Homo sapiens: one gene and its partners. The protein of the gene in region 3 interacts with the protein of the main gene of each other region in a pairwise test. Each region holds a gene or a part of one and is shown on either strand. Other genes may lie near its edges.

What was found.
Region 1: the proteins of CACNB4 (region 3) and CCDC102B interact in binary tests that used the Homo sapiens proteins (3 or more experiments, as listed by UniProt).
Region 2: the proteins of CACNB4 (region 3) and PTN interact in a two-hybrid assay, tested with the Homo sapiens proteins (one large-scale study listed by BioGRID and IntAct).
Region 4: the proteins of CACNB4 (region 3) and EFHC2 interact in binary tests that used the Homo sapiens proteins (3 or more experiments, as listed by UniProt).

What each region holds. Positions count from the first base shown.
Region 1 is NC_000018.10:68,892,080-68,895,579, reverse strand, and holds part of CCDC102B (coiled-coil domain-containing protein 102B), read right to left. Parts: intron 1-3,500. UniProt on the Homo sapiens protein: During interphase, forms fibers at the proximal ends of centrioles to maintain centrosome cohesion. During mitosis, dissociates from the centrosome following phosphorylation to allow centrosome separation. Contributes to CROCC/rootletin filament formation.
Region 2 is NC_000007.14:137,232,234-137,235,733, forward strand, and holds part of PTN (pleiotrophin isoform 1 precursor), read right to left. Parts: intron 1-3,500.
Region 3 is NC_000002.12:152,092,545-152,096,044, forward strand, and holds part of CACNB4 (voltage-dependent L-type calcium channel subunit beta-4), read right to left. Parts: intron 1-3,500. UniProt on the Homo sapiens protein: The beta subunit of voltage-dependent calcium channels contributes to the function of the calcium channel by increasing peak calcium current, shifting the voltage dependencies of activation and inactivation, modulating G protein inhibition and controlling the alpha-1 subunit membrane targeting.
Region 4 is NC_000023.11:44,172,673-44,176,172, forward strand, and holds part of EFHC2 (EF-hand domain-containing family member C2), read right to left. Parts: intron 1-3,500. UniProt on the Homo sapiens protein: Microtubule inner protein (MIP) part of the dynein-decorated doublet microtubules (DMTs) in cilia axoneme, which is required for motile cilia beating.

The DNA.
Region 1 (3,500 bases), on a different chromosome or scaffold from region 3:
CTAAATTACTTGTTTTAACATTGTTGATTATAATGGCTTCATTGCAACATACTTTATAATTATTATACTGTTATAAAATCTGTTGCTATGACATGCTAAATTCTAAAAGCCCAACAACTTAGTCAACATTTAGAAAAATGTTACATTTCAACAATATCCTTTATAGTATCATAATAAATTATGATATAAAAGCCTAAAAACTGCTTTTTCATATATATATAATTGTACCATTATTGTAGAAAATGTTCTGTTCCCAAATCTAAGAGATGTTCTGGCTTCCAAAATGTAGGAAACCAAAATTACATTCTTGGCACTAGACCTCATTTACCAATTATATATAATAAACTAAGGGTCAAATTTTAGATGATGTAGTTTGACATTTGGGATGCTTGTTTGGGAATATGAGGTGAAAATATTATATCACAATTTAATTTAGTACCTGCCATTACTTTCATTGTTAAGATTAATACTTAAAGTTTCTATCATTGCCTCACTTATCAGAATAAAAATGATAAAGTTGCCACAAGAAGGCAGCAACTTAGCAATGAAAAATTAATATAAGGAGAGCAAATGTATTTTTGGGCAAGGACAAATATGCTGTGTCAAGTCTTTGTGAACTTGCAGTATTCTTTTAAATGTTAAAATTAAATAAATTGATTTAACATTAAATAACAGATAACAAGTAGAACCAAGGTTTTAAATAAGTAATACATGGTCTGAATGAATAAATTTTAACTCTTAAGATTTTTTTTAAGTAATGATTTTAGCAGTAGCAACAACAAAGCTTAAATAATGCCTTCTGATGTTTTACTATTGGCAGATTTATCAAAACATACAAATTATTTGATAAATATATGTGTATAACATATATTAAAAAGTAAAAGTCTTATAAAATTATAAGAAGTTTTAGTTTTTATTTTGTAAAACTGTTTCTTATCACATCATTCTTTTCCAAGAATCATATGAAAATTCACTAACTTAAAAAGCATTTAATTGCATGTACCTTAAAATGATAAATAAAAAGTCAGGTAATATTTTAAGCTCTCAGAGTTTATCATAAAAATTACAATAATTTTATCAAATGGAAATAGAATTCCATTGCTTTGCTTCTGATGATGAAGAGAAACTCCTAAAATATTTTAATTCTAACTCAACTGTGAATTTTAACCAATAGCGTGTTCTAGCATTAAATGAATTTCAGATAATGCAGAAATTACTGAAACCTGTTTTCTGAAAATTTTAATGTAAAAGTACATTCTTTGTACAGTAAGCACTAAAATATTTGTTCACTTAATGACATCAATTTCTTATTAAACGTCGAGAAAAAGTACATAAATATCCAATACTACACTTACTGAATGAATATTTATTGAGCTTATTTATGTATCAAGAAACAAAGAGGAACTGAATATATGACTTTAAAAATACAAATAGAATATGAGTAACATTGGGCATCTTTTTACAAAGGAAAAAAAATTGAGTGTCATAGAAAGGCCTGCAATAAATCAGGTAAAAGGAGAAGGTTGTTTGAGGAAATGATTGATATTTAAGCTGCAAATTGAAGTTTAATAAGGCAGAAAAGCACAGCCAGACCCAGAGTGTACCAAGCACAGAAAGCAAGAAAAATGTTTGAACAGTGCAAGACCAAGAAGAGTCTGTGCAGTTATGGAATGTTAGGATTTGGGGAGAACATGGTATAAAAGGAAACTGGACAAACACGGACTGGTTCTGAAAAATAAGTATGAATATCAGAATCAGTTGAGTTGCTTGTAAAAACTGTAATATTGTGATTATTCCGAAGGATAAAACATTGGATCATTTTCTAAACATAGCTATTTACTCATTCTTCAACTGCCATGGCTTGATATTGTTGAAAAGATACTGACAATTGTAATCATTAACAACAACTGGAATGTAAGCTTTATGAAACCAGGACTGTGTCATTTTGCTCATAAGCCCAGCACCAGACACACACTGTATGTGTGCTCCATAAATAACTGTTAAGTGAAAGAGAAAGCAGATAATGACAGTCTCCAGGAAAAAGCCCTTCTGTATTTCAATGACAATGATTACACACAAAGCAAAATTAAGACAGCACTCTAAAAGAATCCAGTTACTAGACTTACCATAACATAACATGAAAAGGACTTCTCCGTACATTGGCTCTGAACTCTTACTGCTATTGCCAGAGCTGTTTTACATTTTATAGTAGTGAACACAGTGAGGCAGAGAGGATTTTTAATAAAATAACCTACAGATGAGTCCCAATTCTCCTTTTAGACTGATTGCCTCAATTTTTCTTTTTTATAACATAAGAAAACTCTTTCCTACAACCTAGTGTTATGAGGGAGAACTGAAATCATTTAGAGAAAATATTTATTAACTTCCAAATTCAACTCAAAAATGTCTAAAGTCATAAATTTATTTCCTAAAGAAGAAAACATCAACAGCCACTTCAGATACAAAATAGTGTATTTACTTTTTCCTCAAGTTGTACCAAGATGACAATCACTTTTTAAATGGACCTAGTCAATGGAGAAAACTCCCAAAAGAATGCACTATATGCCACTTGGCAGGCCAGTGAAGAGTCACCTAAAACCAATGTGAATGTTCCAGTAATTGATTTGCAAATATTCAGAAGGTAGCAGCTGGGTTCAACTACACTCCCTGTAATTGAGATATGAGAGCCATTGTCTAATGCCAGACACAACTATTTCCTTACATATGTATTGATGTTATACCTATTTTTAAGCTTTGCAGTATCCCTCAAGATTTGAATGTGTTTATCTTTCAGTCTTAAATTACATTGAATTTATTTGCTAGACTTATTTAGATGTCTGTTTTGTAATATCCAAATAAATCAGTCTCTTAAAGTAATTTTTTGTAATCAATACAAAAATAGATGACTATGGCTATAAAATAGTATCCTTTGAAAATTGCATAGTTTAGAACGTGAACACAGACTAAATCTCACTCTCTCAAGCCAACCTCCAAAGATCAAAAATGAGAAAAAAATAAAATCACTGGTAGCTGCAAACCTGTCAACACAATAAAGAGGCTTAGACTTATAGAAACTTGACGGATATGTAAGAGGTGCAATAAATGTCTGAGGGCAGCAGAGACTTCTCTGGAGACCATGTGGGAGCAGAGTCAGATGGGGATGGTGCAGAAGAGAAAACATGCGCTATGGTGGATGTCCTGTAAAGGTAGCCACATCACCTTAAGCAGGGAAATAACTGAGAACAGATCTCAGACCTGGAGAGCCAGAACACAAGCTACTATCAGAAATGTAATAAAGGAGATTAGAAAGTACAAGGGTCATTGTTTTCAGGTTTTTCAAGGTCATGGGTAGCACTCTAGATTGCAAGGGGTATCTTGGAAAGCAGGGCTGTCATTTAGAAACTTCCTGGAAAGGGACAGGAGGAAAGCAAGAAGTTGATATTAAGGGAATTATCAAAGAATCATAAGACAAATTGATTTTCATCCTCCTACCCAAAAGC
Region 2 (3,500 bases), on a different chromosome or scaffold from region 3:
AAGTAAAGGGCACCTGCCTGAAAGGTGACTTGTTCTGTTCCTACCAGGACATCACTGCACTGGAATCTCACAGCAGTGCCCTGGGTAGATTTTAACTTCCTGGGTTTTCAAACTTTCATCCTTTCTTTGGCCAGTTTTTGAGTTGATAGAGGCTAGTACTCATAATAATTGGGATACAGAGATGAGAAAAAATAGTAGGTGTGTATTTTTGTAACTTTGTGGGGGGTTTTTAAATACAAATACATTGTTTTAAGATACGTTTGAAAGTGTTCAGAAAGTCCTAAGGCTTTACTAAGAAAAAGTACTCTAGAAAGGATTCAGGCTTCTTACATTGCTATGAATCATAGGATCCAAAGGGCCATGTTCACCATATTCAATCTAGAAAACTCAGAATTTATCCAAGGAAATTCTTTGAATGCATAACAACTCCTGATAAGAAAGAAGACAGGCAGTGATATGGTTTGACTCTGTGTCCCCACCCAAATCTCACCTTGAATTGTAATCCCCATAATCCCCATGTGTCAAGGGCAGGACCAGATGGAGGTAATTGGATCATGGCGGCAGTTTCCCCCATGCTATTCTGTGATAGTGAGTGAGTCTTATGAGAGTTGATGGTTTTATAAGTGTCTGGCATCTCCCCTGCTTGCATTCATTCTCTTTCCTGCCACCCTGTGAAGAGGTGCCTTCCGCCATGATTGTATGTTTCCTGAGGTCTCCCCAGCTATGTGGAACTGTGAGGGAATTAAACCTCTTTTCTTTATAGATTACCCAGTTCTGGGTATTTCTTCATAGCAGCACGAGAATGGGCTAATACAGTAAATGCAGTGAGAAGAATGAGTAGAAATTAATATGAGCCGTGTTACAATTCTGAGCCCATGTGTTTTTTTCTATGCTGAATAGAAAACAAAATCTTGATAAATGCTAACGTATTAAGTGACACCATGGCCTTTAGGTACGGTGAGACAATGAAAAAATCATGAAGTTTTGTTAGAATCATACTAAGAACTAAGCCCTAATCTAGAGAATTGGTTCAAATAGATGTTTGCCACTTACCAGCTCTGTGATCTTGTGCAGATCAATCATTCTGCCTCTGTTTCCTATAAACTGGGGATAATAAAACCTATATCCTCCTCAGAGGGCCAGTGTTAGTATCATGTGAGATTATGTCCTCTGCAATCTCATCTTACCACTAATGTTCAAAACACATTAATTTATTGATTCAGCAAATATGCACTCCATCTCCACTGTTTTAGACGCTAGGGTATAAAGGTGAACAAGACAAAACTCTGCCTTCACACAGCTGACATTACAAACAACACTTTCAAGGTGGCTTTATGGGAGAGTCTTTCAAAATTGTAAAGTGCTTTAAAGTACATATTTATATTAAAGATCATGGGTATGTGGCAGCTATTTTTATGGTTTTGAGACCTGGTTTTCTTGTTGCTAATTTACTACTACAATCCAGAGACATGTGTTGTGAAAAATAGAGCAGCCACAAGGAGAATGAATTACTAGAAAGAAAGAGTATACCTACAGTAGATTTACCCTGAAGGAAAAGGAGGGTTTCTCCTCTTGGGGTTATTTCATTCTTCTTAAAAAATATTAATTACTTGTCTCATTTAAAAAGTATTACAGACTCATATAAAAACCAAAGAAACACACACACACACACACACATACATATATGTATATATGTATACATATATATGTATATGTACACGTATACATATACATATATATGTATATATATACACACACACATACATAGAGAGAGAGAGATTACTCATAACTTCACAATGTAGAAACAACACTTTTAACGAGTTCTATTTATGTTTTCTTTCTATGACTTTACTTAGGAATATATTGACAGTTGATATAGTATTTTATGCTAAAAATTCAATTGTATCTATTTTCCATGTCATTGCATATACTTTGAAATGTGACCAAGTAATATTCCTTTATATTATCCTACTCCATATATTTTGTAACCTTTCATCTTTTGTACATCAGTTGGATAGTTCTGACCTCTTGTTATTATAAATAATGATGCAATGCTGATTTTGTTCACAAATCATCGAATGCTTAAATTTTGCCTTAGTATAGATTATTAGAAAAGGATGTACTGGATCCAAGGGCAGGACATTTTAAAAACTCCAGATATGTGTCGGGAAATTTATTTTTTGAAAGGAAGTAGTAATTTAAATTCTTATCAGCAATTTATATGAGTCTATCACAGCAAAGTTACTCTTGAAAGGCAAATAATCAGACAACAAGCATCATCTGTTTTCTATCTTTTCACAAGCCTTTTGGAAATAGAATTGCCATGTAGTTGGTATAAGTAAACATCAACTCCCCACTTTCAATATTAAGAAAATCTGGGAGAAATCAGATTGGAAGTGGGCCTTAAGAGAAAGACATCTGTTTAAAGATTGTTCAAAGACCTTAAGGGGACATGTTTTTCAAGAAGTGAGAAAGTTGAGAATTCTGAAATAAGCTTATCTCATTTTCTCAGTAAAAGGTCTTGCTTTGATTACTTATTTTCAGATGGCCTGCTGTGTATACAGAAAAACTAAAAAGGAAATTAGGAGATGAAATGATTTCAGATTGAGGGGAGCCCAGATTTTAACTAAAGTGACTCAGGCCCTGTTCGCTGCTGACTTAAATAAAGTGTCTTTGGGTTATTAAAGCAGTGGGAGGAAGTATTGATTAGAATAGAAATACAAAATGTGCACCTTCTAAGAGATAGAATTCATTTTAGCTAAAAGAAGCTAAAATCATTCAGAAATGCACATTGCAGAGGTCAAGAGAGACAGCTGAAAAGGAACAGTTGGAGGCATACCATCAAGACCACTGAAAGTTCACTTTTGGAGACTTGTTCAATAAATCACAAGGACTTATCACAGAAAAAGGATCATATCCCTGTCAAACAGTACCATCGCAACGTAAATATGTTCAAAAGCCTGCATATCACCAAGATCCTTTTAATGCTTTGTGAACCGATTTAAAGTAACTCACCTGTGCTTAAGAATTAACTGCCTAGTCATCTAGAACTACCTAATCCCTCGCCCCACGTCAGCTATGCCTCAGAACTGATAACAAGGCTTGTCGAATTGTGAACATACAGCTCAGTGATTCAGGAACTAAAATCCAGGTACTGGTTGGCTAGGCTGCCTAACGTGGCACTGTTCATTCAATTTCCAAATATTTCAGTTTAAATGAGTAGCATAAATTAAGTGGCAAAATACAGAAACATATTTCTGTTAAAAATCAAAAGTATCATCTTTTAAACATTTGCTTAATGTGTTATTCACAGATGTAGTTCAGTCCAATGCCTATGCAATAATTTTGTTGTTTCTTCTTTGATTTCCTATTTTGTAGCATCAATTGTTTCATTTCCTCTTTTATGGACTCAATGCATTTACTTCTACGATATGTGTGGAAAACATGTGTACATGCATACTGCCCCTCAGTGCTACCCACATGCTGATACTTTGCTTCAT
Region 3 (3,500 bases):
TGCAACCATATCTTCCATTCCATATGCTCTTTTTTTTTAATGAAATATTATTATACATTATTCTGTAACTTACTTTTTTCACTTGAATGCATTTCAAATGAATGTCTTAAATGCATTTCCATATCATTACACGCAGGGTGGCTTTATTTTTTTCTTTAATGGCTGAATAGTACTCTGTAGTATAATATATAGTAGTCCACCCTTAACCGTGGGGGATACATTCCAAGACCCCAGTGGATGCCTGGAACTACAGATAGTAACAAACCATATATACATTTACATATATATACATATATATATATAATGTTTTTTCCTATACATATATACCTAAGATGAAGTCTAATTTGTAAATTAGGCACAGTAAGAGATTAATAACAACTAATAATAAAACAGAACAATGTTAACAATATGTCATAATAAAAGTTATATGAAATGTAGTCTCTTTCTCATTCTCAAAATAGCTACTGTACTGTACTCACCTACATTCAGACCTCAGTTGACCGCAGGTAACTGAAACCAGGGAATGCAAAAATATGGATGAGGGCCCCAATGTACATTATTTGCTCATTTACTGACTGCTGCATACATATATTGTTTCTAGTTTCTCTGCTCAGTGTGATGTTTGCTGTGGATTTTAGTAGATAATTTTTATTAGATTTAGGGAGCTGCCTTCTCTTCTTTTTTTAAAATCACGTGCCTCTAGATATGCTCTATTCTTAACTTACAAAATTTATCAAATACTTTTTTGGCACCTACTGAAATCAACATATATTTTTCTTTAATTTGTTATATAAATTGAATAATCTTTACATTCCTGTTTATACTATTGGCACTGAATTTGACTTGCTGTTTTTTGGTGTGTGTGTGTGTGTGTGTGTGTGTGTGTATTTTTACCCATATGCTCTTTTATAACGTGACCTTGTTGCACCCCATCAAAAGATAGTCTGTTTTCTCTTTTGTTGCAACTGAGCAGGCTCTTGGACCTGTTTTGACTTGAGTTTGCAAGACAAGTGATACAGTGTAGCTTTCAAAACTGGGTCTTAGGAGAGCTGTGGCTTCAGCCTTCACTTCTTGGAACCTAGCCACCATATTATCCGGGAGCTCAAGCAACCATGTTGAGAGGCCCAGGTGGAGAAAAACTGAGCCGCTGCCAAAAGCTCTAGTTGAGTTCTCAGCCAGCAGCCAGCACCAACTGCCAACCACATGTGTGAGGCCACTCTGGACCTTCCAGCCATCCCAGTGCCCATATAACATCATACAATGCAGAACTGTCTGGTTAGTACACAGAAATAAAAAATTGTTGTTGTTTCAAGCCACAGAGTTTTGGGGGAGGTTAGGAGGCAATTTCTCCCCACTAAACAAAGCATTTAATGTTGGAGCAGAACCTCATGCCTAAAATATATCAAGTTAGTTCTCCATCCATCCACTGCTTCATTCATTCAAGTGTGTGTTTATTGAACATATACTATGCTAGATGCTGAGGACACAAAGATCAAATGCAGACATGTCCCTGTCCTTGTGGAACTCATACGGATGGGGAGACAGAATGTAACAGAGAAATCTAAGTACATGTTAAATAAAAGCGGTGGTGCTACTGAAAACTGGCACAAGGCCCTCTGGGAGCCCCTTGTTGGGGAACTGACTTTATCAGGAAGGTTAGAAGAGGAAGTGAAGACTAAACCCCCAGATCTCAGGGAAGATTAAAAGTTAACTAGGCAGAAGGAAGGACAACAACCTGCCACACAGAGGGCTCAGCATATGCAAAGGACCAGTGGCAAGAGGGAAGACAGTGTGTTCAAACTCTGTGTCCAGAGCTAAGAGATCATGGCTCAAGATGAGGCTGGAAGCAGGCAGGGGCCAGGCCAGGTATGACTTTGCTGGCCTCATAAGAGCAGACTTAACAAGGAAAAGTCAACAAACTATTCCCACTCTGATCAGATTTTCTCTTCAAACCCCAGTGGGAAGAGGACTAACTTGGAGTACTCAGCCGTATAAACTGTATGTGTAGTGACACCCATGGGTAGATATACTTATGGATATATAATAGATACTCGGGGTACATGGTCATTGAGCCCGCCCTCTCGTTCCTTGTTACATGTCACCGTACTGTTTGTAGACATCTCTGTCTCCATTGCTAGATTATAAAAATCTTTGAGTACAGGGGCTGTGTCTCATCCATCTTTTCATTCCTCCCCTACAATATCTAACATAGTGCTAGGCACATAGCAAATACTTAAGTGTTTCCTAAAACTTTAAAATATGACTAGATAATCCATTCATAAATAGCCTGTAAGAAGGGCTCTCCTGAAAGAAAATTCTATGGCCTCATTTGGAAAGCCACTCCAATGATGGCAACACTCTTAGGAAGGTCTTGCTGTAAAACATCATTCCTTTCTAATTTGGGCCAGTTCTTGAGTTTCATCCCCAATGAAGAGTGAGAACACTTCATCACATTTCCAAAGAAAGCCTTTGTGTGTACTTTGAAGATCATTTCTGGGTCACTCCTAGCTTTCTTTCCTTTCAGCGGCAAAGTACTTCATCTTCTCACCTTTCCTCAAAGAAGCCATTTATTTGCTCCCTGGATTCATTCCAAAACCTCCATCCCTCCTAAATGGTGGAAGCCAGAAATCTTGTAGACCAGAAACAAGGTCAAAGATTCCTGAGGGGCTTCATGAGCAGTCCTCAGAGTGGAAGCAGGCTCTCTTTCTCAGTCTGCTTGTTTTCCAGCCAATTCAAATGTTCATGTGTGTGCATGCACACATATGTGCATATATAGTCTCAGAAACACTGAAACTTTTTAACAAGCTCAAAGAACAAATATTGTCTTATTGGGTGAGTTGCCAACTGCCTTCTCTGCTTCACCAACAGCCCAGTCTTCCCCATCCAATGTAACACATCGATTTTTTTTTTAATGAAAGCTTTTCTCCATATTTTTGTAAATAATATGATAAAGAAACTAGCAATATATATATTTTTTGGTATTCCACTATCTTCTTCAAAGGCATCACAAAGACTGTGAAACAGCACCAAGAAATTTCATCACTCCAATGTATCAAGAATTCAAATATCAATAAATCACTGGTCATTCTACAAATAATGAGACTCTGTTTTTGTTTGTTTGTTTGTTTGATGGAGTCCTGCTCTGTCGCCCGGCTGGAATGCTGTGGAGCAATACTGGCTCACTGCAACCTCCACCGCCTAGGTTCAAAAAATTCTCCTGCCTCAGCCTCCCGAGTAGCTGGGATTACAAGCACACACCACCACGCTTGGCAAATTTCTTTGTATTTTTAGTACAGTCGGGGTTTCACCATGCTACCAGGCTGGTTTGAAACTCCTGACCTCAAGTGATCCGCCCACCTCAGCCTCCCAAAGTGCTGGGATTACAGGCGTGAGCCACTGTGACCAGCCCAAGGCTCTGTTAACGTAAGCAGCTGTTATGCTTTCATAAAAAATATTTTTTGGCATTGGGGTGATTTCAATTTTATCCGAAAGTTATTGTT
Region 4 (3,500 bases), on a different chromosome or scaffold from region 3:
CCTGGAGCACAGTCTTTCAGTGAGAGACTCTCAGAGTTTATACTTATGAAATGAGGAATAATGCCTACTGCCAATTAAAATGTACCTTTTAATATGCTCAAAAATTTACAAAATATTCTAAGGCCCTTAGCACTACATCAATACAAAGTATCACTCCTATTATTAATGGATAATCGCTACCACTATATAGAACATTTAAGTCTGATGCTCTGTGCATTAATGAAATGAATTTGCTTGGTAAGTAAGGTGACCTTATACCAGCTCCCACAGCACAAACTGACAGGGGCTGAGGTAACCAGGTACAAAAAGGTTTTGAAGTCCTGATTCCAGTTTGAGTTATGTTAACATAATAAGGAAAAGATCAAGCTGAATTATAAGAAAAATGGGAATGGAGTAGAAGGAAAATCCTGGTACCAAAATATAGGGTTAGGAGAAATACATGGGTAACAATTACTGGGTGAAAGAAAGCATCCAACCCTTTAGCCATATTGTTTTTCATCTCCTGATCTGAATTTACACAGCAGGGTTACACGGCTGCTCAGCAGCTGCCCAGCTCCATTCCAAGGCAGGTAAAACTATTCCTGGGCAAGAGCATGCATTGAACAAAATCAACAAGCTCCATGCCTGCCTCCCACGGGAGACTGTAGACGTCAGAGGGGGCTCTGGCTTAGCGTGCCATAAGGAGGGCTGTGCAGAAAGAGACTCTGGTCAGGGCTCTGTAAAGCCCTGTGGAGTCTGTGGGGAACAATAAGAATGCAGAATATAAATGTAAGCTGCAGGCTGATGGGCCCATTAGGAATTAGGGCAGTCTTTGAAAGGAATCTGCAGAGATGATGCAAAACACTAAGCATGTGACCCAAATCATGGCAGGGCATATTGGAGGGAGAGGGGAATGGGAATGAGACATTTTCTAATCTGATTAGTCTGAAGTTTCCCCTGAGTGTGGAGAAGGGTCACTGCACAATTAGAGGCAAAGTTAGACTGAACATGGTCTGCTTAGCAGCTGAGCGGGATGACCTCCTCAAAGCTAAGCTGGGCTTGGAGACAGATGTGTTCAGAGACTGAGATGACTTCGAAGCAAGTTCTGAAACAATCTTTTTGCATTTAATGTCAAATCGTAAAGGCAAAGACAAAACAGTCTGCTGAGAGAATGAGAGGATGATGACTTGGTGGCCTCAGCACTGGATAAGAAACATGTAGGTCCTCCAGAGGCCAGGCTCCCACATTACTGGACTTTCCAGGACAACTCATCCTTAAGACCATCAAAAGATAATCTAATAAACATCCACAGCTTCCTGACTAGAAGACAGCTTAATGTGTGAAAGGCATTCAGATCCAATTGTTGAAAAACATGGCTTCCTCTACATAGAAAGACACAGGTTTCTTCCAGTTCATTTCTAAGTCTGAGTGTGTGGTCTATGGTCCCTGACTTAAATTTCTCTCCTAGTCCTCAATCAATTCTTTGCACCAGGTACTGTGCTGGGTACTTTATGTATGTTATCTCAATTAATCCTCTGAACCACTAGGAAATAGGTACTGTTACGTCATTCGAGAGATAAGGAATCTGAGGTTCAGGCAGGTCAAAACCCTTGCACAAGATCACACAGCTAATAAGTGGACTCAAAGAATTTAAGAGATGGGAGTGGAGGAGGGGGGTAAAATTGTCAGGATGTGACAACCCATTGGTTATTTATAGGTGGTAAATCACACAGAAGCAGTGTCTGCATCTGAATGAATCGAAGTTCAAGTCACAACTCTTCATTCCAAGGTAAGGGATAAAGAGACACATAAATAGCACTGTGAGAATTCTGAGCAGGAGATAATCACTCTGATTATCAGCCAAACGAATGCAACAGAGCTTCATGGATATGGTGCCACTTGAAATGGGTCTTGAAGGAAGAGCAAGCTTTCAGCAAGTGAAAACCATTGGGAGCTATTGCCTACTGATGAAATAGCAAGGGAAAAGGCCAAAAAAAAAAGGGGGGGGGAGGGGGAAGGCAGGAGGTATATGTGTAATATGCTAAACGGCCCATGTGGCTGGACTACTGGGAACAGGAAGGGGAGTTTTGGGAGTGGGGGATGATATCTGTGAAGAACTCTGAGTCCAAGGCCTGCCTACTTCATCTCAGTTCCTTCACGGCAGGATCCCTCACACGGCTGCTAGCAAATAAAAGCAAATAGAGTTAAACAAAAACAAAATCAAAACAAAACAAATAGAACTGATAATCTAGAAAATTATTCCAGGTTGATTCAATGCACATACACATCCAACTAGATTTGCCCTCTTCTGGGTTTCCCTCCTGATACCTTGGACCCTAGTTCCCTGACATAGAATTTGGCTTTATCTGTTCCTTTGGTTTCTCCTTTTGTCTCAAACAAGGACTCCCTACTTCAGACCCTATTTGAGAACAATGCTCCAGCTGCGAACCCTAAGCCCCACTATGGAGAAGGAGCTTAATTCAAAGTTAAAGAGCTGGTCCTTCCTTAGAGAGCAAAGAGACACCACAGAAGGTTTGTGAGTAAAAGTGCAATAAGATGACATACATTTTTGCTCTTAGAAGGTACTTAGCTGCTATATGTAAAGATGGATTTAAACATTTAGACACTGGTGGATGAAAGACCAATGTGGTGGCACCGCAGTATTTAAGAAGCAATGTGGGTCAGAACAAGAATGATGATAGTGGAAATGGAGAGGAGAGAGTAGAAGCAAGCAGTAAGGAGGAGGTAGAACTGTCAAGACATCCTAATCTACTGGCTATTTGTAGACAGTAACTCAAAATGATTAGAAGCAGAGGATGTGCATTTGAAAAGTTCAGGATTCAAATCAGAGCTCTTCTTCTTCTACACTATGTGACTTTGGGCAAAATACCTCATCTCTCTAAACCTCAGCATCCTTACGTATGAGATAAGAAGGATAACAGTTTCGACCTCACCAAGCTGTTCTCAAAAAGTAAATGAGATAATATATCCAAAACAATGATCACAATGCCTAGAACACAGCTGAAAATGTCAGAATTATCAAGATATATAAGTCAGAGGAGGAGCTAGAGTGAGTGATGCTATAGGAAGCATAAGAGATGGCCAGAGTCTAGGTGGCTGAGAGGGACATGCCAGGAAATCAAAAGTCAGGTTCAACAGGAGAACTGATGTGTTTTAGAAAGCAGTTCACCATGCTCTCATTTTATAGCATCATAATCTCTATGTTTTACATCTGGTGCTCTATCAGGACAGAGCCCCATGCTAATAACCCTAGGTTCTCTTACTGCATGTCTATAGCTATCAGGAACTGCTGCTTTGAAAAACCTGCCCTGAATTTTACATCTAATGTCCTCCTAACCAACAAAGTTGTGTATTTCATTTTGTCCCAGGAATCTGTGGATCTATAAGTGTGTATTCATGTTAAAAAGATAAAATAATAATTTGTAATAGGCTCTCTAACATTCAAAATCAAGACAAACTTTTCCTTCTGTAACACTTAAATGGAGGCAGGTCACCAATAA